Linked DNA regions of Homo sapiens. The protein of the gene in region 3 interacts with the protein of the main gene of each other region in a biochemical or structural test. Each region holds a gene or a part of one and is shown on either strand. Other genes may lie near its edges.

The links.
Region 1: the proteins of ACTR3 (region 3) and WASF1 form a complex in vitro, tested with the Homo sapiens proteins (one study listed by BioGRID).
Region 2: the proteins of ACTR3 (region 3) and WASF3 form a complex in vitro, tested with the Homo sapiens proteins (one study listed by BioGRID).

Annotation. Positions count from the first base shown.
Region 1 is NC_000006.12:110,099,104-110,107,251, reverse strand, and holds the end of WASF1 (actin-binding protein WASF1), read left to right. Parts: intron 1-57; coding exon 58-175; intron 176-1,672; coding exon 1,673-1,845; intron 1,846-3,694; coding exon 3,695-3,874; intron 3,875-5,035; coding exon 5,036-5,664; intron 5,665-6,572; coding exon 6,573-6,730; 3' UTR 6,731-7,433; downstream 7,434-8,148.
Region 2 is NC_000013.11:26,679,102-26,687,249, forward strand, and holds part of WASF3 (actin-binding protein WASF3), read left to right. Parts: exon of another isoform or gene 1-933; coding exon of another isoform or gene 934-1,100; exon of another isoform or gene 1,101-1,952; coding exon 1,953-2,219; exon of another isoform or gene 2,220-3,314; intron 3,315-3,505; coding exon 3,506-3,873; intron 3,874-4,414; exon of another isoform or gene 4,415-4,482; intron 4,483-6,586; coding exon 6,587-6,744; 3' UTR 6,745-8,148. UniProt on the Homo sapiens protein: Downstream effector molecules involved in the transmission of signals from tyrosine kinase receptors and small GTPases to the actin cytoskeleton. Plays a role in the regulation of cell morphology and cytoskeletal organization.
Region 3 is NC_000002.12:113,927,383-113,935,530, forward strand, and holds part of ACTR3 (actin-related protein 3), read left to right. Parts: coding exon 1-73; intron 74-3,918; coding exon 3,919-4,014; intron 4,015-6,896; coding exon 6,897-7,004; intron 7,005-8,148. UniProt on the Homo sapiens protein: ATP-binding component of the Arp2/3 complex, a multiprotein complex that mediates actin polymerization upon stimulation by nucleation-promoting factor (NPF).

The DNA of each region.
Region 1 (8,148 bases), on a different chromosome or scaffold from region 3:
TATTCTGATTGCCTAAGTCTTACTAATGTGTGTTTTAATTGATATTTTATATTTCAGAGATGATGGTAAAGAAGGTCTGAAGTTTTATACCAATCCTTCGTATTTCTTTGATCTATGGAAAGAAAAAATGTTGCAAGATACAGAGGATAAGAGGAAGGAAAAGAGGAAGCAGAAGGTATTACAAGAGATTAAAAAATTGAGGTTAATTTTTGTATATTTGTGTTTTGTTGCATATATTGAACTTCATTAATCTTGTATTTTGACAGTTTTATTTTATTGGGTCCATATAGTTAAATACTGAAGTCTTTATAACTCCACAGAAAGAACACAGTCTGATGGGGAGCAGATGAGCAATTAGATTATTAGAGTAGGGCATAATAAGTGCCATAGCAGAGGTATGCATAAAGGGTTTAGATAACACAAAATAGCATCTGCTTTAGCTAGCAGGCAGGGTAAACCCTTCCCACAAAGCTTATAATGAATCTTGAAGAACAGATAGGAGTTAGGTGTACCAAGGAAGAGAGGAACATTTTGGTAAGGAGCAATGGAATCTTGTACAGATATTGGTAACGTAGATTAAGCTAGTATTTTGTTGCTACAGAGCACATCCTAAACATTTCTCTCCTAAATGTTTTGGAGAGGTTATTATATTCACATGAAATTTCTGTTATTGTCATTTTCCACTTTCTAATAAAATTCACTTGTATCTGCTTTATATTTCATGTTAATGATAACTGAAAACACAGAAGGATGAAGCAAAGTTAGATTTAGGTTGAATTATGAAGGAGGCAAATTCTGTCTTTATCATCTCTCTGGTTCTCCTGTAGCTATCTCTGCTTTCCCTAATCCCTGTATAATGCCATTGTATTGTCTTCTTTGCTAGATGGTAACCCAGTGTTCTAGCTAACATTTGCAAATTGGTGACTGGCAAGCCAGATTATGCCTGTAGGGAGTGTTTTGTTTGCCAAACACAGAGGTTTTTAAATTTTGGAACTAGAGTGCCTGAGATGGACATGTCTGTCTAGCTCACCTCATGCCCCATCTTACACCCGACTGGCTTCATTCATGTATGTTATCCGCTTGGCCGCTTTGGGCGTTTGAATTTGTTACACTTACTCTAGCCCTTTCTGTACTTTCTCCCCCAGTTTTGAATCACTTTTTGTTTTATTGTTTAAAGACAATGTTTTCTGTTGAGTGATATAGTTATTATCGGTTAATTAGATAATTGGATTTTTTTCTAATGTGTTGGCTAGCTAATCAGTTACTTCCCAGATAACATAACCTTAGTAAATTGTTACGTTTTGATTAGGGGCAGACAATGCCATTCATCGTAGAAATTTCAAACTAATGCCTGTGGAGCAAGGGTTCATGAGTCTTTTTTCATCTGAAAGACTTTCTGACCTCAAATTGTATTCTTTAGGCATACTGTTTTGTGTCTGGTGCATCAGTTCAAATTAGGGGTTAAACAAAACATGGCAGGAAACTGGGATTACAGCAGACTGGCTAAGATTTAACTGAATGTACAAGTAAACCATTTCTGTGTTACTTTTACTATATTATGATGACATTGTCTTTTTCAGTGTTGATGTTAGAGTTTAATTTGATTGTTATAACCTCCTTTTTAAAAATTAGCGCTTAAGCATTTGACTTTGTTTCAATACATCTGTTATAGCAGAAAAATCTAGATCGTCCTCATGAACCAGAAAAAGTGCCAAGAGCACCTCATGACAGGCGGCGAGAATGGCAGAAGCTGGCCCAAGGTCCAGAGCTGGCTGAAGATGATGCTAATCTCTTACATAAGCATATTGAAGTTGCTAATGGCCCAGCCTCTCATTTTGAAACAAGGTTTCTTTACTTTTGTTTTTTTTTTTAAATGATAAAACATTGGCTTTATTTGTAGTATCTGTACTTCTAAGTCTTGAGTCCTAAACTGTTGAACAGGCAGACCCTGTTATAAATATAGAGATTATTTCAAAATCCTGACCACTGTGAGCCTACTAAAGTCAGGCCTTGAGCAGGTCATTTTCATACCTGGACCTTAGTTTTGTCATCTTAGAAAGAAGTGGTTGGAGTGGCTGATCTTTAGGGTTTTAGCTTTAGTGTGACGTCTCAATAGCCTCTCGATATTTCAGGCACAGTCTGCTAGAATTTTGTAATAAAAGTTTAGGGTCTGGGGTTTTTTTGAAATACTGTTGATTTATTGCATATAAAATAGGAGTGAAGAAGGGGTTCTGTTTTGTTCCTTTTACTTTCCCCTGACTTCCTTTCTTTGCCACATTGCCCACCTCAGATATATTAGGACTTTCAAACAAAAGTATTGATCCCTTTTGTAGAAAAGATTTTTTCCTTTCTTAGTGGCCAGGGGCCCTAACTAAATAACATACTACCAGCAAACACATTAAACTGGCATCTGTCTACGAAGACACTTATTTGGGTATAGTCATACGTTTGTTTGTTTGTTTTGAGACAGAATCTTGCTCTATCGCCCAGGGTGGAGTGCAGTGGTGTGCTCTCAGCTCACTGCAACCTCTGCCTCCTGGGTTCAAGCGATTCTCCCACCTCAGCCTCCCAAGTAGCTGGGATTACAGGCACACGCCACCACGCCCAGCTAATTTTTGTATTTTTAGTAGAGATGGGGTCTCACCATGTTGGCCGGGCTGATCTTGAACTCATGACCTCAAGTGATCTGCCTGTCTCAGCCTCCCAAAGTGCTGGGATTGCATGTGTGAGCCACTGTGCCCAGCCTAGTCATATGATTTTTTAATGGAAAAGAGCTTAAGGTTTTCTTTTAAGTAATATACATATAAATGATTGGGCCATAAGTGTGCAACATCTTGACCTATTTTAGGAGAAATATACATCTGAGAGATACTATTTATCTGTATTACTGAAAGAATTGACATTAAAAAATTAATAAACTTTAGACATTTATTTCTACTACAGTTGAGTAATTAAGGTACTTATCTGACTCACTAAATACAATAATTTCTGACTTGCTGTGTGCACATCTGTTAAATCCAACTTTTTCCCAAGAATGTACTAGCAAATATTTATAAATCTTAACATGTTCGAGTTATCTAAAATTTTGCTTACATCTAAGTCACATGTTGCTATGTTACTCAGCTATTTTCTGAGTACCCTTGCACCTTTGAAAACAGCAGAAGGACAGAAACAATATAGCTAGCCACCTCTGTGCTGCTAGTATCTGGGAGGCCTTTCTCTCTGGTGCAAGACTTTTAGAAGTCATTTAAGTTTAAGAGCACACCGAGATATACTAGTAGTAGAAAACTCATTTTCCTATTCTACCTTTCTGTCATTGGCATCTTCTTGTAAAGAACTAAATAGAGGCAGATAGCTTTCCACACAATTTGCTAAAAGTTAATTATTTTCTTGTTTATTAAATTACGTACGTAATGCTTTTCATCCTGTGAGTTGAATTAGTATTCTGTTATAAAATAATAAAATAACCGATGGTCATCATAGTAGATCTCTAAATCAACAAGTAAGGGTTATATTGTGAGCAGCATTCTTTGTTTTAAAAGCAGGATTAATATAATACATTTCTGAAAGTTTCTTAAAAATAGTTAAAATATTGGCATTGAAAGGATAAACTTTAAATATTTAATATCTCATGTAGAACCCTTTCCTCCCAATAATTCAAGAATAATTCACTGATACTATATATTTCTTTTAGACCTCAGACATACGTGGATCATATGGATGGATCTTACTCACTTTCTGCCTTGCCATTTAGTCAGATGAGTGAGCTTCTGACTAGAGCTGAGGAAAGGGTATTAGTCAGACCACATGAACCACCTCCACCTCCACCAATGCATGGAGCAGGAGATGCAAAACCGATACCCACCTGTATCAGGTATGTTGGAACAAGCATATGATGTTTTATCTTAGGAGTCAGTAAGCTTTTTCTTTCAAGGACGATATAGTAAGTATTTTTGGCTTTCGGGCCTTACAGTTTTTGTCACAAGTACTCAATTCTGCCATTGTTGCATGAAAGCCACCATAGAATATACATAAACAAATGAATGTGTCTGTGTTGAAATAAACTCTATTTATAAAAACAGGGAGCAGGTCAGATTTGGTCTGTGGGACATTATTTGTAATCTTCTGGTTAGAGCTGACACACTCTCCTAGGAAAATTTAGCTAATAAGAATTTAAAGATTAAAGCCTGTTTCATTTTATTATAGTGTTGTTATCAAGCATATCATGTGCAGTGTATTAAGAAAAATTAAGGATTTTTTGGAATGTGGGTAACAGTCTAAGAAATGGGAACCAAAGATGTGATTATTAATACTAATTTGGTATTAAGGAAAATACTTAAAGAATTTCAGAGAGGATTGGCAGTTGCTTATAATAATCTTTCAGTAAAGCTATTTTGAAGTTTAATCTTGTCAGTTATTATCCAAATGATAAATTTCTAATAGAGAAATATTAGGGAAATTTTCTAATAGAGATATAGAGATCAGCTTTACAATTTTCAGTTAAAAATCCAATTTTCTATCACTGACTCATTTGGTGTTCCATCCTCAGGAAAAGAGAGAGCTGTAAATTTCTTTTTGTGGTTTGTAATTAGCTGTCATTGATTTAACTGAAATAGCATATGATGAGACTTCATAGTTTCAGTATAAATATAGCATTGTATTGGCCACATGTATTGCCACAAAATTGCATTATGATCAATGTTGAGTCATTATAGAGACTCCTGTCAGTATAGAATTGAGCATTTTATTTATTAAAGTAAGCATAAAATATCTGAGTGGATGCCAAAGTTGCATGAGAGAATGAGACTATTTAGACTATTACAAACCAAAGCACCACTCATTAATTTTTTTATTGATGTGCTTTTAGTTCTTTTTTTTTTTCTAAATACTGTTGAAGATGTTAAATTTCTATAGGAGCATGTTATTGGATCCATTTTGATATAATTACTGATAGTCATTTATAGTTTGTGTGGTTAGATTTTCTCTTTAGGCTTTTCTCTTTTAATAACTTGCTAGAATCTCTTTGTCATTTCAGTTCTGCTACAGGTTTGATAGAAAATCGCCCTCAGTCACCAGCTACAGGCAGAACACCTGTGTTTGTGAGCCCCACTCCCCCACCTCCTCCACCACCTCTTCCATCTGCCTTGTCAACTTCCTCATTAAGAGCTTCAATGACTTCAACTCCTCCCCCTCCAGTACCTCCCCCACCTCCACCTCCAGCCACTGCTTTGCAAGCTCCAGCAGTACCACCACCTCCAGCTCCTCTTCAGATTGCCCCTGGAGTTCTTCACCCAGCTCCTCCTCCAATTGCACCTCCTCTAGTACAGCCCTCTCCACCAGTAGCTAGAGCTGCCCCAGTATGTGAGACTGTACCAGTTCATCCACTCCCACAAGGTGAAGTTCAGGGGCTGCCTCCACCCCCACCACCGCCTCCTCTGCCTCCACCTGGCATTCGACCATCATCACCTGTCACAGTTACAGCTCTTGCTCATCCTCCCTCTGGGCTACATCCAACTCCATCTACTGCCCCAGGTCCCCATGTTCCATTAATGCCTCCATCTCCTCCATCACAAGTTATACCTGCTTCTGAGCCAAAGCGCCATCCATCAACCCTACCTGTAATCAGTGATGCCAGGAGTGTGCTACTGGAAGCAATACGAAAAGGTAATTTTCTCAGCTCCATGAAAAGCATTGCTATAGTAGCATTGGAAACTTTCTAAATATTTAAGACAAAAATGTGTTCCTTATCTATAAAATTTTAGGTGATCATGTTTGTGTACAAATGGCCTTTAGAAAGTAAAGCTATATCCAACTTATATTTAAAATTATTTTCCAGAAAATATATCACATTTGACCATTTTATTTTCATGCTTTGTAGGTATCCTTAAAATGTTTATTGAGTGAATGAGAAATTTAATATATCAGACTTAAATGTTATAGAACATTTAATTAAAACCCTTTATATTATGCTTAATGTGTATATTAACTCCTTTAAAAATGGTATTTTCTTCAATGTTAAGGCTGTTCATTTTGGGTATCCATGACACTTGCTCTACCAGATGCCTTTAGAGGAGTGAGTTTCCTCCCTTAGTAACAAAGGAAAGACTTCTCATATTCATTCATTTATTGTCATTATTTCCTAAGCAATGACTATAGGCCAGGCACTGAGCATATAGAATGAATAATAGTGCCTTTCCCTCAAATACAATGGATAATGAAGCCACAGAAAATATATTCAACAATGTTTAATTTATTTGACCATTGAGGTGATAGAAGAAATGTACCACCTCATTAATTTTTTAGGGGGTGGTGAGCAGGGAGGTATAGTAGACCATGATGGATAAATAAACTGTAGATACCTACTGGGATATCTGGTAAGTTTTACCAACTAATAACACAGATAACATAAAGATTTAATGCCTCTCTCAGTATGATTTCTTCACATTCTTTTCTGATCTTTTTATTTTCCTATAAGTATTTCTCATGTGTATTTGATTTTATTCCAGAAATATTAATAATATCTAGTATCTAGTATTTTGATTTAAATGAATGGTTTGGATTCACTGTATCAGGTATTCAGCTACGCAAAGTAGAAGAGCAGCGTGAACAGGAAGCTAAGCATGAACGCATTGAAAACGATGTTGCCACCATCCTGTCTCGCCGTATTGCTGTTGAATATAGTGATTCGGAAGATGATTCAGAATTTGATGAAGTAGATTGGTTGGAGTAAGAAAAATGCATTGATAAATATTACAAAACTGAATGCAAATGTCCTTTGTGGTGCTTGTTCCTTGAAAATGTTTGGTCATTCTAGTGTTTTGCTTTCTTTTCCTTATAATAAATGACCCTTTTCCTCCATAACTTTTGATTTCTAAGGAAAATATTAGCATACATTTCAAACTAAATGTTTTACAGTGGCTTATCTTTTTTTTCCCCCTGAAAAGACTAATTTGGTCAAATAAACCACTAAGTATTAAGCATGGACAGCTGTTGTTAGAGTAGCAGATTCAGTTTTTTGATATATCTTAATTGTGTACTTTGTGAATTTTAATTTAAAGAAAGCAACTGAAATTGAAATCTTGAGGGCAGCTGTGTCTACTAATGAGCCTTATTCCATTTCCTGATGTTTTAAAAGAAGAAACACTGCCTTGATTATACGAATACACTCAGAAAGTACATTTAGCTTGTAGTGTTGAATTCTCTTAAAGGAATGCTTGAATTTTTTCATTATTGTTTTATTGTTTTTATATACTTGCCTTATTTGAATGTTTAGCAGTATCCCCTTCCCACTTATATATTGTGTGATATGATTTTGCTTGCCTATAGGAGTTAAAAACTTTTCCATGTGAAATACTCTGACTTAAACATACATGTAACTTACATAACTGTTAAGAATAACAGTCTGATTTAATAAATGGTTCATTTTAAAAGTTCATCAGTGTTGCTCTTTGAATAAAATGATTTATCATAATTTATCAAATACTGTATGGTAGGCTTTAAATAGTGAATGAAAATTTGAAAAACACTTAGGCTACATAATTTCCTCTTAATTGCACAGCTTCATATTGTCTACTGTGTAAGGTAGCTTTTATGTCATTTTCCCCCTAAGTTCATAAACTCTGTATTTCTCAACTGCTTGTGGTTTTAAATTAAAACCTCAACTTGTCATCTAATTTCAGCATACCTTAATTTCAGTTTAACAGTGTTCTTGAAATTATGTTTTGCAGCCAGGCATGGTGGCTCATGCCTGTAATCCTAACACTTTGGGAGGCTGAGGCTGGTGGATCACTTGAGCCTGGGAGTTTGAGACCAGCCCAGGCAACATGGCGAGAACCCCGTCTCTACAAAAAAAATACAAAAATTAGCCGGGCGTGGTGGGGTGTGCCTTTAGTCCCAGCTACTTGGGAGGCTGGGGTGGGAGGATCACTTGAGCCTGGGGAGGTTGAGGCTGCAGTGAGCTGAGATCATGCCACTGCATTCCAGCCTGGGCAGAGTGAGACCCTGTCTGGAAAAAAAAAAAAAAAGAAAAAGAAAAATTCTATTTTGCAATGATAAAATGAGTTAATGTTTGCACAGCTTAGATTTAGGGGTGGAGGGGAAGCACCATTAATAGCAGATTACTTCATCTGAAGAAACGACTCCATGAAG
Region 2 (8,148 bases), on a different chromosome or scaffold from region 3:
TGGCCCTCCCAGTCCTCTCTTCTGTAATAGGTGATCACTGACCATCATGAGGCCTCGGGATCTCCACTCACCTCCACCTTGGCCGTGCGTCTGCAGCTGGTTTCTGCCTCCCCACTGGGAGTGGGGCTCATCTCCAACAGCTGCCTGCTCCTCCCTCCTCCTCCTCCTGCCTGCTGGCACATCCCTTTTCTGTGGTCCTTCCCTCTTCAACTGACCAGTCCCCTCTTCCCCCAGCCCCCGTCCTCCTGATGGGCACCCTTCATCAGGGTTCTGCCCTGTAGAAATCTCTGGTTTCTACTTCAGATATTTATCGAGTCTTCCTTCACTTCTGCCTCCATCTGGTTAGCCCCTTTTCCTTGCTTCCTTTCTACCCTGTGTTGCAAGGCTCCTTGATAGGGATCGCCCTCCTAGTTATGCCACAGTATTTATAGTTTCCTACCCTCATCTCATCAGAAAGCTGTCCATGTTTGGCTGGAGAACTCTGTTTCCTTTAAAAGGTTGCACTGTAAGCCAGTGACTCGTAGTCATGCGCAGAGTCAAGCACACATCATCAGTGTCTCCAAGGGTTATAGGAATTTACATTTTTAAAATACTCTAAATCTAAATACAGGTCAGGTCCTTCCCCCATTAAATATATTTTTAAGTCATTTGCTAGCAGCTCACCTAGTTCAAAAGACATAATCAGAAGTGCACCATAATCCAGAATTCATACTGCAATTAGGGAAGAAAATAATGAGTAGTTATTAGTTGTTACACTTCAATTAAGGAAGGAAAAAGGAAAAGAAGCTGTCTCTTCTCATTTGGAAGGCTTTTCTGTGCCACATGGTGCCCCAGTTAAGAAAAGCTACCAACTGGAATCCCAAAGATGGAAATGCAGCGTGCATCTTCCCTGCTCCCTCAGCACCCCCAATGTGTGTTTGGTATTTCCTTCAGAGAGAGAAACACAAGCTGAACCCTAACAGAAACCAGCAAGTAAATGTGAGAAAAGTCAGAACAAGAAAAGAAGAGTGGGAGAGAAGGAAAATGGGCATTGAGTTTATGAGTGACGCAAAGAAACTGGAGCAGGCAGGGAGCGCCAAAGAGGACAGAGTGCCCAGCGGGTTTGTTGTTTTGCTTTCTTTGGGTTCCCAGACTCAGACTGCCCCTGCTTCTGCCGCCATGAGAGGATGTACAGCCCCTCCTGGCCACATGTCCTGTAACCTGAGCCAGGAGCGTGTGACTGTCTTACTAACGCCCACGGCACTGCCGGGCTGCCACACTTGGGTCCTTCCTCTCCTCCTGAGGGCTTAGCAGGAATCCCGTCCCTGCACCCCATGTCTCAGCTCTGCTCCACTAATCCAAGATCCCTTTCCTTTCGGAGTTTCACACCCAGTTTGTGTGCAAAGAAAACTATGGAAAGAAGGCCTTTCCATAGTGCACCGCATTGCTTTCTGCCCTTTTTGTTAAGTACATTTCTTCTGTTTAAGAAAAATATGATTCACTCTACTGCATTCTCGATTTCTTTTCCTGTTCTTACTGTTAATATTTATCCAGTTAACCTGCCATTTTATATTTTCTAATTATATGCTGTCAGTTTCATTGCCACTGAAATCTTCTGTCTTATATCCTGTTTCTAAATGGAATGGTTTCTTTCATAGCCTTCTTAGAGAAAACGTATGCTGAAATACTGTGAAAAGGAGGCTCTGCTGTTTCCTGCTTGCCGGTCTGTCTGACTTATTCACTTCAAAGCTGTGAATCTGAATCCATGTAACACTGGGGCTTGCTGCCGACTTATAATAATTATGTTGTTGCTTGGAATCTCTCACGGGGCTATACCTAGTTGATAGTAAAGCAAATTAATGTCTGATTTTTGTGTATTAGCAATGTTATTATTCAAATACATCCATGTGCCTGTTAGCCGACAATTTTTAAATTAATTTAAATTTCTCCCACCTCTTGTTTTCAAATGCCAGGTCACATGCATCGGACGTTACGGATTACTCTTACCCGGCTACTCCCAACCATTCTCTGCACCCCCAGCCTGTGACCCCTTCCTATGCAGCTGGTGACGTGCCACCACACGGGCCTGCAAGCCAGGCTGCGGAGCATGAGTACCGGCCCCCATCTGCCTCGGCGAGGCACATGGCCCTCAACAGACCTCAGCAGCCGCCCCCCCCGCCTCCCCCTCAGGCCCCAGAGGGGTCCCAGGCCTCTGCACCGATGGCTCCAGCAGACTACGGGTAACTCAGCATGCCTTGTACCCTAATCCCTCCTGGCCTTGCATTTGAATCTTGCTCTATGTGGTAGGAGAATTTTAACTCCGGTATTTTAGAGGCCAAGATAGAGTCAAGGATGACTGGATGTAGATACTAGCAACTCTAACATTCTGTGTGAAATAAAGCAGGTGCAGCATAAGCTCAGACTTACAGTTGAGTCTCAGGCCACACTGTGCATGCATGTGTGTTCCCTCACACACACTCTGGGTGTTTGAATGGCTCTTTAAGCCAAGGCATTGATAAAGGGTATTAAGTGCTGATTTTGTGAACCTGTCCCAAACCCTCAAGTTTCTGGACACATCCTGAGTGGACCACAGAAAATTGTTATCACAGACGAGAAGACCACACCATGCAGCTCCTGTGCCTCATTTCTCAGACTTGACCAAAATCTGCTTTCGTGACCTCTGACCACCCAGACATCATTCTGCCCCAGGCCCTCCTGTTCCCTGAGAAGTAGAATTCAGAGACTTCATGTTCAGGCGTTTATCAATTTAGGCACCCACCTCTCTTTTTTTTGGCTTTACTCTAGTCTTTAAAGACTTCATTCCTCAGAGTTGGTGCCCAGGAAAATTACCGTGTGTTGGTGTCCACTGCTAACACGTGTCTGCACACCCCTGTCTGAATGACAATCCTGCTCTCAGAAGTGCTCTCCCTGGCCATGCATGCCAAGTCAGGATCCCCAGAGTGGCTTGAGGCTGTGTCAGGCCAAGAGAGGGCCCATGGTCCAGTTAGTTTGGAAGACCCTCGGCTGAATAGAATTCAGCAGATTTCTTGGCTGTGTGACTTTTCGAAGCTTTTGATACACACCTGGGCACTGCAGGCATGGGGCATTTCCACGGAGGTGGGTTAGAGAATGTAGAAAGCTCCCAATCTGGTTGACCTTAGGACCCTTAAAAGACAAGTTTGTGAGCTACCGCCTTGAGATCCCAGTGTGAAGCCTTCACTGGCGCTGCCGTCCTGGCCTCTGCAGTCAGCTGCTTTATTCTGCCTTTCTTCAGGAAGTGCTGCACTTTTTGAGTGGTCCTCCTTTTGGCACATTTCAGTAGCAGATCTTGACTTCTGTCATAATGAATAATGTCAAACTGTGAAAATAACTGACCCAAGGTGTGCATGTTTGCATCCTGCCATGATTGAAGTTCAGGTGACAATACGTGTTGTGTCTGGGGATGGCTCCGTTAGGTGTCTAAGAGCTCCCAGGACGTGACCCTCTCTTGTTCCCTTGGTGACTATGTGCCTCATATCTCTCTCAGGATGCTCCCAGCGCAGATAATTGAGTATTACAACCCATCCGGACCACCTCCTCCGCCACCTCCTCCTGTGATTCCCTCAGCACAAACTGCCTTCGTCAGCCCTCTCCAGATGCCCATGCAGCCCCCGTTCCCTGCATCAGCCAGCTCCACGCACGCAGCTCCTCCTCACCCACCCTCCACCGGGCTCCTGGTCACAGCCCCGCCACCCCCGGGCCCACCACCTCCCCCGCCAGGCCCTCCTGGTCCCGGGTCTTCTCTTTCGTCCTCCCCAATGCATGGCCCCCCAGTAGCTGAGGCGAAGCGGCAAGAGCCTGCACAGCCACCAATCAGTGATGCTCGAAGCGACCTCCTCGCTGCTATTCGAATGGGTAAGTGGAGCCCCCAGACACACAGCCTGCCTTTCAGCAAGAGGTTTCTTCATGTCTCCAGCCAGCTACAGCCTCCTTGTCTTCAAATGACTACTCACTACGTTTTTTAAAATAGAGTTAAAGGGGTCTTACTTGATTTTTTTGTTTTGTTTTGAATAGTAGTTGTGTTTTTGTCCAGTGTAAGGTAATCAAATTGTGATAAAGATTGGGAAACAGCCGGGCGCGGTGGGCTCATGCCTGTAATCCCAGCACTTTGGGAGGCCAAGGCAGTTGGATTGCTTGAGCCCAGGAGTTTGAGAGCAGCCTGGGCAACATGGCAAAACTCTATCCCTACAAAAAATGCAAAAAAAAATTAGCTGAGCATGTTGGCCTGAGCCTGTAGTCCCAGCTACTCAGGAGGCTGAGGTGGGAGGATTGCTTGAGTGTGGGAGGTCAAGGCTGCAGTGAGCCGTGGTCACGCCCCTGCACTCCAGCCTAGGCGACAGAGCGAGACCCGTCTCAAAAAAAAAAAAAGAATTGAAATTAGGAAGTTTTTACTTACCTTGAAACCAGAAACCCAATAACTGAAGTGATCGATTAATTAATTGGATCTCTTCTCTGCATTCTGCTCTAAGGGGAAAAGTATAAATGAAAGAAAGTGAGCTCATATTAATGATTTCTTTAAAAAAAAAAAAGAGTTTGTGCTGGACTTGTCATATTTGCTTGATGTCCTAAGCCAGTGGTTTTTCAGAATCTATAATATTCAACAGCATAACCCTTTTGTCAGATGAAAGTCCCGCGTTGACCCCCTGACCACAAAACACATGGAAACAGAGCATCTCAGGTGGAATTGGGTGGGGAGTCTGCCCTCGCCTGTCTTGGGCTGCCCAGAGAGCCCCTGGGAACCTCCAGCCCACACCATGGATTCTTAACCAGGTCCCAACCCAGGTTGGTCGAGGGTCCCTGACATGTTATGGGAATATCCAAGAGCTTCTCGCCTGTGGGGAGCTGCACAGACTTGGTCACAGTTTAGTCATCTCATCTGGAAGTGACCAAGCAAGGAGCCTGGCTGCAGCCCGCCAGCTCAGCATCAGGGATGTCCTTCAGAGGAGCTGTGATGCTGCTGCCTCTGCGTTTTTCTTGTGTGCCCATGAACCAGGCCCACAGTGTGGCCCACGCACCCTTCTAAAGACCCCAGGGTCCTCTGTGTACCTGGACATCATTGACACACTTTTATTTTGTCAAGATAAAAAAGTCCTAGAGGTATATTAGCTCATGAATATCAAGTTCGGGGTCATTGTAGGACGGTGTTGGATTTGCCTTTTTTTTTTTTAACACCTTATAAGCCCTGTCTACCAAGAGTAGATACATAATCTGTATCTAATCTCGAGGAAACATCTGATACACCCAAATCGACAGACATTCTGCAAAATAGCTTCCTATATTCTTCAAAAACGAGAAGGTTGTAAAACACAAAGACTGTGAAGAACTATCCAGATTAAAGGACATTAACAAAATTGACAACCAATGTCACGGATAATTTCCACTGGATTCTGAACCAGGGGATAATCTTTTCCATTTGCAATTAGATTGGGTCTTTTTGCAAAATTTGAATAATATTTGTAGGATAGATAGTAGTAGTGTATCCAAACTAATTTTGTGATTTTGATATTTTGGGTGGGCGAGGCGGGGGCGGTAACACATGAACTATTTTAGGGGTAAAGGGACATTATATGCCATTCACTCTCAAATGGTCCAGAGAAAAGTGTCTGTGTCTGTCTGTGTAAAGATGATAGGGGAAGATTGGGAAATAAATGTGGTCAGATGTTAGCAGTTGGGGAATCCAAGTATATGGGAATGTTTTTCTGCTGGTCTCATAGCTGTTCTGTAAATCTGAAATTATTTCAAAACAGTTAAAAAATGAATGGATACCATCTTGGGCAACATTGCAAGACTCTATCTCTACAAAAAAGAAAATACAAAATTTAACCGTGCATGGTGGCGTGCGCCGGTGGTTCCAGCTACTCAGGAGGCTGAGGTGGGAGGATTGCTTGAGCCCAGGAGGTCGAGGCTGCAGTGAGCCATGATCGTAACACTGCACTCCAGCCTGGGTCACAGAGTGAGACCCAATCTCAAAAAAAAAAAAAAAAATGGATAAACATTAAATCATCAAATATCTTACTTTGTTACTAAGCTAGAAAGTAGATGATTGTATTTTATGTTTGTTTCCACAGTAATTGTTGAAATAAAGGTTTCTCAGTTACTTCTTGGGTTAGCTGAGAGTGAGTAGCATAGAACACTGTTTCCAAGGCTCTGGATGCTGTTGCTGCCTAGTAGATGTCCTGTGGTGATAGAAATGCTCCAGCCTGCAGCGTCCCAGAGAGTAGCCACTAGCCACATGTCAGTTCATGCTTTTAAGGCTATATGTGCCTAGTGGCTGCTGTCTGGGATGGTGCAGCTCCACAGTTTTCTCTAATGGTGTTCAGGTACACTGAAATTAGGAATTTTTAATATTTTAACACATTACTTTGTTACAAAAAAACTTCTCACTTTGAATGCATGTTTTTTCTCATGAAACTTTTAATATTCCCTGAGCTTTTCTCCCCTCAAATTTCTAAAACTTTCTGTCCTTAGTGTCAGTAGAAAAAAAAGTCCAATAGACATATTTGTTCGTTTATCTTTAATTTGGAGCCAGCAAAAGGATGTGATTCTGAACCACGTGTTGTGTCTGCAGGAATTCAACTGAAAAAGGTGCAGGAGCAGCGGGAGCAGGAGGCCAAGCGGGAGCCAGTGGGGAATGACGTGGCCACGATCCTGTCCCGGCGCATTGCCGTGGAGTACAGCGACTCTGACGACGACTCAGAGTTCGACGAGAACGACTGGTCCGACTGAGCAAAGGCCGGCGGAGAGGCCGCGTGTGGGAGCGTGTTGAAGATTTTAAGTGGTCTCTACACCCAAATAGTGGTATTCTAATCCCGTAGCATAGCACCTTTTGTATAAACAATGTGATATTGCTTCTGCACATCCAAAAATTCTGGGTCTTTTCAGTATTTACTGTGTAATACTTAAGTGCCACTAAACATAGCAAATTGTGCTGCACATGAGGAAATAGGCTGTCACTATCACATTGTCCTGAAAACAGCATCTGCTTTCCTCTTGGCCATGAGAGTATTTAGTGCAGTTTGGGTTTACTCTTACTGATCAATATAACTCTGCAGACTTGCTGTGTGTTTGTGAAGCTGCCTGGTGTTAGGTCTCTGCAAGACTAATGACTATGTCAGAGTGATGTCTTCCAACCAGTAAGTGATATTGTTTCACCGCTTTGGTTTTTCCTTTTGTTTTTTTAAAGGATGTGTTTCTGAATAAGTTGGTTTTAGAGGGAAAGGTTCAACAAACAGGGAGAATCCAGTGTTTCTGCTTTCAGTTTCTTGGCTTGGTAGCCTCTGAGTGAATCTGATGCTCTGCTGAATAATTTCATTACCTCTGCACATGCCTGTCAAATATGAAATTGGAAGGGCCCTTTTCAGGCTGGGTTCCCTGTGGGCATTTGCTTAGTAAATGCCTGTTGATGGTTTTTGCAAGAGAATTCAGCAGCTCAACAGTAATGAAAGTGAAGAACAGAGTCCATTTTCCTTCCTGGGGCCATTGGGGATGACACTCAAGATACTTGCCAGTCTCTCCAGTGTGGGCACCAGCCGGCCAGAACAGATGCGAGCAGTCCATGACTCTGGGAGCTACACCGCTGAGCTGGGCAGAGCTGCGGCACAGGGCCTGGGCTGCAAAGGAGCCCTGCTCCTTTAGTTTCCTGACACCTGTGTCCTGAGTGAGCCGCAGGAGTTCTTAGCTCCTCAGCGAGCAACAGAGAGCACTTTAGATGGCACCTTTCACCACTTGGTCAGAATTTTAAAAGCTTAGGTTTAGGTGAAAGTAGATATTGACAGCTATTCACCTTTCACGGTGCTGGGGCCAGATTAGGGATCACTCCCGTGAGGAGGGCCTTCACCCTGTTCTAGAAGCACATGGTTGTCCTCCTGTTGTTGGCACATTAAATGATAAAAAGCACCTCATGAGATTCCCTTGATCAGCCCTGCAGCTGTAGTACAGTGCTGTGCCCTCACCTCCACCCTTCCTGTTGTTCCCACGTGGGCAATACCAGGGACCCATGGGGAAACTCAAGAATGACAGCTTCTATATTTTGTAATTCTGGATGAAAGATAACTGTGTTGAACAAACAGGTGCTCCAGGCTTTGATTATAGATACGACTTCAAAAATATGCTAAGACGCTTGACTTATTA
Region 3 (8,148 bases):
AATGGAAAGGTTTATGGAGCAAGTGATCTTTAAATATTTAAGGGCAGAACCTGAAGACCATTATTTTCTTTTGGTAAGTTACAAGTTATAATTTCACTGAGGAAATTTTTGAATACACTTAATGAGAACATTTTCATCATACTTCTTTGGTATACTTTGGTTATTAAATTGTCATATGTCTAAATGACTTTGTAATAAAGCTGTATCATCTTTAAGACCATCTAGTTATGGCTACAGGAGAATAGTAGTATGTCAAAGCACCACATGTTAAACACTTAAGAAGTGCTTTTGGTAGTTAATGTCTAATCTTTATGATAGAAACAGTAAGTAATGTTCAGAAAAATGTTGGAAACCTGTGGCACTTTTTTGCTTAAAAAACAATAGTCTGATTATTATATCATTGGTATTTCTTCATAACAAAAATACAATATAATCTAACTTTTTATTAAACATCTTTTTATTAAAGCAGTGCATGTTCATAACTTAAAAAATCAAATGACTTTATAAGATTTAAAACAACAAAATAACACTTTCCTTTCTTACCTCTCCCAACCTTTGGTTCATATTCCCCGGAGGCAAACATTTTCAATTTTAACAAAGTTTGCCCTGCTAGTAATCTTTTAACATGTTTCTTTTATTTAACATTTTTTTTTTATTTCTTCTGTCTTTAAGAATATTATACATTATTTACCAACTTCCTAATAGGAAAAATGAGAATTTCCCTTTTTACCTTTTCTCTCCCTCAACACAAAATACCTATCCTTTCCCACTCCTCGCATTGTAGTTACATCACAATTTTTGGTTAAATCAATATTCTGTGTCTTTCGGTGATTGTGATGGACTATAAAGTTGAAAGAACCATACTATGGACACTCATACACCCACAATCTAGATTCGATGATTAACCTTAACATTTGGCTATAATTGCTTCATGACGTCTATCCATCTTTCACTTCATTTTAGTTTTTAAATCACTTCAAAGTGAGTTGCAAATGGGAGTCATTTGACCCCTAAATACTTTAGCACGTATTTCATCAACTAGAGCTATCATTTGTGTATGGTTATTCTTTTCATATAAAATTTACATATCATAAAATCACCGGTCTGCACCATTCAGTGGATTTTGACCAGGGTTTGGCAAACTTTCTAAGGGAGCAGATAGCAAATATTTTTGGCTTTGCAGGGGTTATAGTCCCTGAGGAAACTTAATGAGAACTTTTTATACAATGGTCCCTGTCACAGCTACTCAGCTGTGCTGTTGTAGCATGTTAGCAGCCATAGACAATACTTAAATTCATAGGTATGTCTGTGTTCCAATAAATTTTTTTTTTTTACCAAAACAGGTGGTGGGCTGTATTTGACCTGCAGGATGCATGATGTGATTTGTCCAATCTTTGTCAGTTACATACATCTGTGTAACCTAAACTCTTACCAAGATATAGAGAAATTACTATCAGCGTGGAAAGTTTTCTCATGCCCTTTTGTAATTAATCTCTGCCCCCGTGCCCTAGTGACAACCACTGTTTCTTTTTCATCTGAGATTAGCTTTGCCCATGTTTGAGTGTCAAATAATGGAATCATGCAATATGTGCATTTTGGTGAAACACTTTTACTTAGCATAATCTGGAGATTGAATTATGTTGCATATACTGGTGATTTGTTGCTTTTTGTTGCTGGGTAGTATTCCATTGTATAAATTTGCCTCACTTTATCCATTTTCCTGTTGATGAATACCTGGGCTATTTTTGTTTTTTTTTTGTTTTTGTTTTTGTTTTTTTAAGACAGGGTTTTGCTCTGTTGCTCAGGCTGGAATGCAGTGGATCAATCATGGCTCATTGCAGTGTTGACCTCCCAGCTCAAACAGTTCTCCCAGCTCAGATTCCTGAGTAGCTAGGACACACAGGCCCGGGCCACCACACCTGGGTAATGTGTTCTGGTTTAGAGATGGAGTCTCACTTTGTCACCCAGGCTGGTCTTGAACTCCTGGGCTCCAAGTGATCCTCCCGCCATGGCCTCTCAAAGTGCTGCCACCATGCCTGGCTTAGTTCTAGTTTTTGGTTATAATAAAATAATTTGACCATTGTGAACCTTCTTCTACAAGACTTTTTGTGGACATATGTTTTCATTTCTCTTGTCTAAATACGTAAGTATGGAATTGCAGCGTCATAGGGTAGGTACCTGATTGGTTTTTTAGGGAAACTCATGGGAACTTTTCCCAAGATGGTGAACCTTTTTGCACACCCCCCAGTGATGCATTAGTAATCTGCTTGCTCTATTCAAGATTTGGCTTATCAATCTTTTATACTTTTTTTTTGAGACAGTCTTGCTCTGTCACCCAGGCTGGAGTGCAGTGGTGTGATCTTGGCTCACTGAAACCTCCCCGCCTCCCAGGTTTAAGGGATTCTTGTGCCTCAGCCTCCTGAGTAGCTGGGATTACAGGCATGCACCACCACACCTGGCTAACTTTTGTAATTTTAGTAGAGACAGGATTTTGCCATGTTGGCCAGGCTGGTCTTGAACTTCTAGTCTCAAGTAATCTGCCCACCTCGGCCTCCCAAAGTGCTGGGATTATAGATGTGAGCCACTGCGCTGCTAGCTTGTCAGTCTTTAAAATTTTAGCCGTTCTGGTGGGTGTGTACGATTTTTCATTTGCTTTTAATTTTAATTTTCATTTTCTGATAATTATGTTGAGCAGTCTTTCATGTACGATTGTTATTATTAGCTATTTGTATATTTTCCTTTGTGGGGTCCTCTGATTATCTTTTATGTAGATTTTTTTTCTTGGAGTTTATAATTTCACTGCCTTGGTTTTTAGTTTACTTAATTTTGTATGTATTCATCAGTAAATTATCTCCAGACTTTTAAACATAGCTCCAGAACTCTTCTAAAGAAGTTTAAACACCACAGGGAGTTTAGCTTATAAAGGTTTTATGTAAGGTAACAGTATACTTAGTTGTTTTGCTTTATATTTCTTTTGAAATAATAATTTTAAAAATATTTAATTTTTAATGGATTCAAGTTTTATCACTTTTTCCCTTTGTGATTTGTACTTCAGAAATTTAAGGAGTTATTCCTACCTTAAGGTCAAAAAGAGAATTCTGTGTCTTTTTTAAATTTAAAAATTTTTCTTTTACATTTAAGTATTTGAGATACCTATTAGATTGCCAGTCAGACTCACAAGAATCAGAGGTCTTACCCAGTGTTAATCTTTAAAAATTGAAACAGTTTAAGTGATCATGAGGCATAGGTGAAATATGAAGTCCAAGACTGCCAGATCTCTGAGTCCTTCCTTGCCTCTTTAGAGTGTGTTCTGTCCCAGACTTAACCTGTGAGGTTTCTAAGTGATGTATACAGTCACATAAACAGAAGAGTGCTCTGCAAACATCTTGATTCTATGCTCTTAACAGGTAAATTAATATAACATTTTTCAGAAAGCTGTACCATTAGATCTGTAGAATCTCGGCTTGTTTACTGTAATCCTATATACTTCGGGGACATTCATCTAAAAGCATTACTTAGATGAGGGCTCTCCCACTGGCAAATACCATTGATGTTTTTTCTGGAGGTTTGTCATTACCATATTTAAAGGATGATTTGACTGGACCACCTTTTCCCTACCTCCAACCCTCTCTCTCCCTGCTTCATTTCTTTTTAATGTTTAATCTGTATAAGTGGTATGATATAGGCATTCAGGGTATTTTTTTTTTAAAATGTGAATTACCATACTGTTTTCATATATGTATGGATGTTTGAATTCTCTATAGTTTTCCTTTGATCTCTGTGTCTGTCTTTCTACTTGTAAATTTAATGCATTTTAAATAAAATGTTTGAAATAAATTACTTCTCATTTAAAAATTGTCAAGAAAGTTATCAAAATAATCTGATATTATCTATTTAAAATGTTATTTATTTCAATAGACTGAACCTCCATTGAATACTCCAGAAAACAGGGAATATACTGCTGAAATAATGTTTGAGTCCTTCAATGTTCCAGGCTTGTACATTGCTGTGCAGGTAAGCAAGTTCATACTTTCTAAGTTTGATTCTTACATTTTAACCTAGTTTAATTTGCTGCCTAAAATACGTACTTTTTTTTTTTTTCTGCAAAGGTTTAAACATAATGTCAAAGCATGTTATACTTCTCTCCTGAATTGTTAATTTAGAAGTAATATTATGGGAAGTGGAGATATTTAGTCAGGAAAAGAGAAGTGTTAAAAAAGTAAGTTAGTGGTGTTTGGGTATTTCAAGGGCTTTCATAGGACAGAAATGAAGGAACTAATATTTATGGAATGCTTTCTCTGTGACAAGAACATTGTATATATATTTATCCTTGTAAATAATCCTTTATCATTTATCCTTATAAATCTTTTTGTCCTTTATTGTAGTCTTTTTTGATTGACTTATCTTTAGGTATATTTGACACCCTAATATTTCACTTCTCTTAATTTGTACGTTTATCTGTATGGAACAGCTTCTCTCCCACCCCTCAGGATCAGAGCTGACCTCATTTTTTTTTTTTTTCCCTTGTAGCAGAGGTAATCCCTGACATAACACAAATGCTTTATATGTGTATTAATTCATTATTTCTATTAAATGTAGATATTTTTGTTTCTGTTTTTTGTGGAGGAAGAAAACTAAAGCTGGAAGGCACTTTATTCATAATTAAATGGTTAGCTGTGATACCAGGCAGCTGAGGTCTGTCTGACTTTGCTCTTTCTTGGGATCACACTGGTTTTTGTAACTCCACGGTACACAGAATCAATAAGTGATAATTATGGATGAATATTTTAACTTGGATAGCAAAGAACTTTTTAATGTTTAATGCAATCCATAAATTTAATGAACTGCCTTTTAAATTCTCTGCTGCTAAAAATATTTAAGGAGTCACTTAAACCTGTCATGAACTTTATAGAAGAATTCAGTCTTGAGTGGGAGGCCCTTTTTTAGTTCTTAGAATATGAATAAAATGAGGAGTTGGGAAAATTCATCTTTCACTTGGGAGTTTTTGCTTCTCATCCTATGTTAAATATAATAAACTTATGTTTAACCATATTGTCAGGTAAAGCTTACTTTAAAACACTGGCATCATGAGCTTTGTTTCATTCCTCTGGAGTCGTAATTTGGTTTTTCAGTGATTTCCTTAGTGGCCTCTGAGTGCTCTTAATTTCATTATTTAATCTCTGTTCTGTTTTGTTGATGTTCAGTAGTCAATAACATTTCTGTAACATGATGTGCTGATACATATCTATTCTAGTTTGGGACCGTAACTGTTTACAAAAGACTTGTAAAAGTGATCAGAGATAATTCTTGGTTGTAGATGATAGTTTTGAACTTACTTATAGAGGAAGGATATCTCATAATGAAGTCTAAACAGTATATATATATATAACTAGTATTAGGATGGAATTTTTCATTTTAAGATTGTCAAAAAATAATGTATAGTTCTGTTAGCCTATAGTGATTATGTGGTGATTGTGTTAATATGATCTTGTGTTCAGATAGGAGGGTGACCTAGATAGCTTTCTAGGTCCCTTTTAGCTATTACAGTCCAGGTAGGTAAAATAAGTCCAGTATAAGTTTAGTTGTTTTTAATTACTAGTCATATACTTTGTTTGAGGCTTGGATTGTAAGAAATTTAGTTTTTTAAAAAATGAACTATGTTAATTTCTTAATTCTCACACTTAAAAAAGAATTGTGTTGTATTGTCTGTACCAAGGTTTTTCATAGAAAAATTTTATCAACGTTGCTCCATAATTAAATCATAGTAGTATTTGGAGGTGTGCGATGGCGTTTTCTGTATGTCATATAGTCCTAAACACATGTTACCTTAAAAAAATTTGAAGGTAGGCCTGGCACAGTGGCTCATGCCTATAATCCCAGCACTTTGGCAGGCTGAGGCAGGTGAATCACAAGGTCAGGAGTTCAAGATCAGCCTGGCTGAGATGGTGAAACCCCGTCTCTACTGAAAATACAAAAATTAGCCGGGTGTGGTGGTGGGCACCTGTAATCCCAGCTACTCCGGAGGCTGAGGCAGAGAATTGCTTGAACCCAAGAGGCGGAGATTGCGGTGAGCCGAGATCGTGCCACTGCATTCCAGCCTGGGTGACAGAAAGAAACTCTGTCTCAAAGAAAAAAAGAAAAAGAAGGTAATCTTTTAGTAATAGTTGTTTATAGCCATATATGTATTGAATAACTGGAGGTAGGGTGGTTGTGTACTTTCTGCCTTACATTGCAGTTTGTAACAGGCCAGCCCACGTGGACATAGTTTAAGTTCTGGCAAGTTAGTTCTATACAATTTTTTTTTTTTTTTTTTTTGAGATGGAGTCTTGCTCTGTCGCTCAGTCTGGAGTACAGTGGCATGATCTCGGCTCATTGCAAGCTCCGCCTCCCGGGTTCACGCCATTCTCCTGCCTCAGCCTCCTGAGTAGCTGGGACTACAGGCGCCCGCCACCGCACCTGGCTAAGTTTTTGTATTTTTTAGTAGAGACGGGGTTTCCCCGTGTTAGCCAGGAAGGTCTCGATCTCCTGACCTCGTGATCTGCCCGCCTCGGCCTCCCAAAGTGCTGGGATTACAGACAGTTAGTTCTGTACTGTTTAATGCAATCTTCCACATTTTTAGCTTTAGGACAGAAATAGCCTTTATAAAATATGTAAATCTTACAAATCATGCTCCTAAAAGCAAATGTAAACCTCTAAGTTTGTCTTAATAAAATGTAGGGAGTGAGCTATTTTATTGCATAATACAAAATTAATTTTATGTATTTTCTTTCCACAGATACTACATTTAAAATTGAATAAAGTACTCCAGGGAACTAGTTTTTTTTTTTTCGATTAACTCTTTGTTTTTTTGTTTTTTTTTTTTGTTTTTTTGCCTTTCTTCTTTCTTTGTGCTCAAGGCTGTTCTTGCCTTAGCTGCATCTTGGACCTCAAGACAAGTAGGAGAACGGACGTTGACCGGTACGGTAATAGACAGTGGAGATGGTGTCACTCATGTCATTCCTGTGGTAAGGCTATTTTACAGTTACTGAACAGAACATGAAATAACACATCTGGCAAAGTTAAATTATACGAATTAATGTTACTTTTAAAAAACTTTAAATGCTGCACTATAATTTGGCCATTTGTCCAGTTATAGCTATGTTTTGCTCACCGTTTAAAACTTTTATAAACAATTCAAAATGTTTCTTTTACTGTAGGTTTGTACTGCAATTAAGAAAATTACAAATTGCAATATCTGGAATGGAAGTATATTAATGGCTTTCATTCTGTTTTCCAGTTGGATGTGTGTTAGCCATTTGATGACCTCTTTTATTCATAATTAACAGATTTCAGACTGGTGTACAGGGTAACTGTATAACAGTTAGTTTTAAGTACCTGAACTTTAGTAGATGCTTTATGGTTTGTACTTAATAAAGCATATTAAGAAAAATGCATCAAATTAGATTGTCAGAAATAACATTTTTCTTCCAAGGCCGTTGTGCTTCAGTTCTTAATGATACATCAAGTTTTAAAAAAATTATGCCTAATGAATTCAAAATGACTACTAGAATTCATACTGTTTATTATTAAATGGGTATATAGAGAAAGGTTTATCTTTTAAAGTAATTTTTATATTATAATGAATATCACTTAAGGATTTACATTATTTTGAACTTTTTTTTTTTTTTATTCTCACTCCAGTGTTTAATGCATCAGGCAATGTCTGTTAAAGATTACATCCTCAGGGTGACTACCTTTGGATTAGACTCCTGGTCCTCCACCACTTTCACCCTCATGATATGTCATAATGGTTTTAGTAATAACTGCCATTGTTTAACGATAGCTTAAGATAAAATTCATATACCATACAATTCACTTCTTTAGAGTGTACAGTTCATTGATTTTTAGTATATTCACAAAGTCCATCCGTCCCCACAATTTTAGAACATTTTCATCACCCTACAAAGGAACCCTGTAACTATTAACAGTCACCACCCATTTCCCCTTGATTCCTTCAGCCCCTGGCAACCACGAATCTACTTTTTGTCTGTGTTAGATTTGCCTGTCCTGGCCATTTTATGTAAATGGAGTTAAACACTGTGGTCTTTTGTAACTGGGTGCTTTCACTTAGCCGAACATTTTCAAGATTCATCCATGTTTTAGCACGTA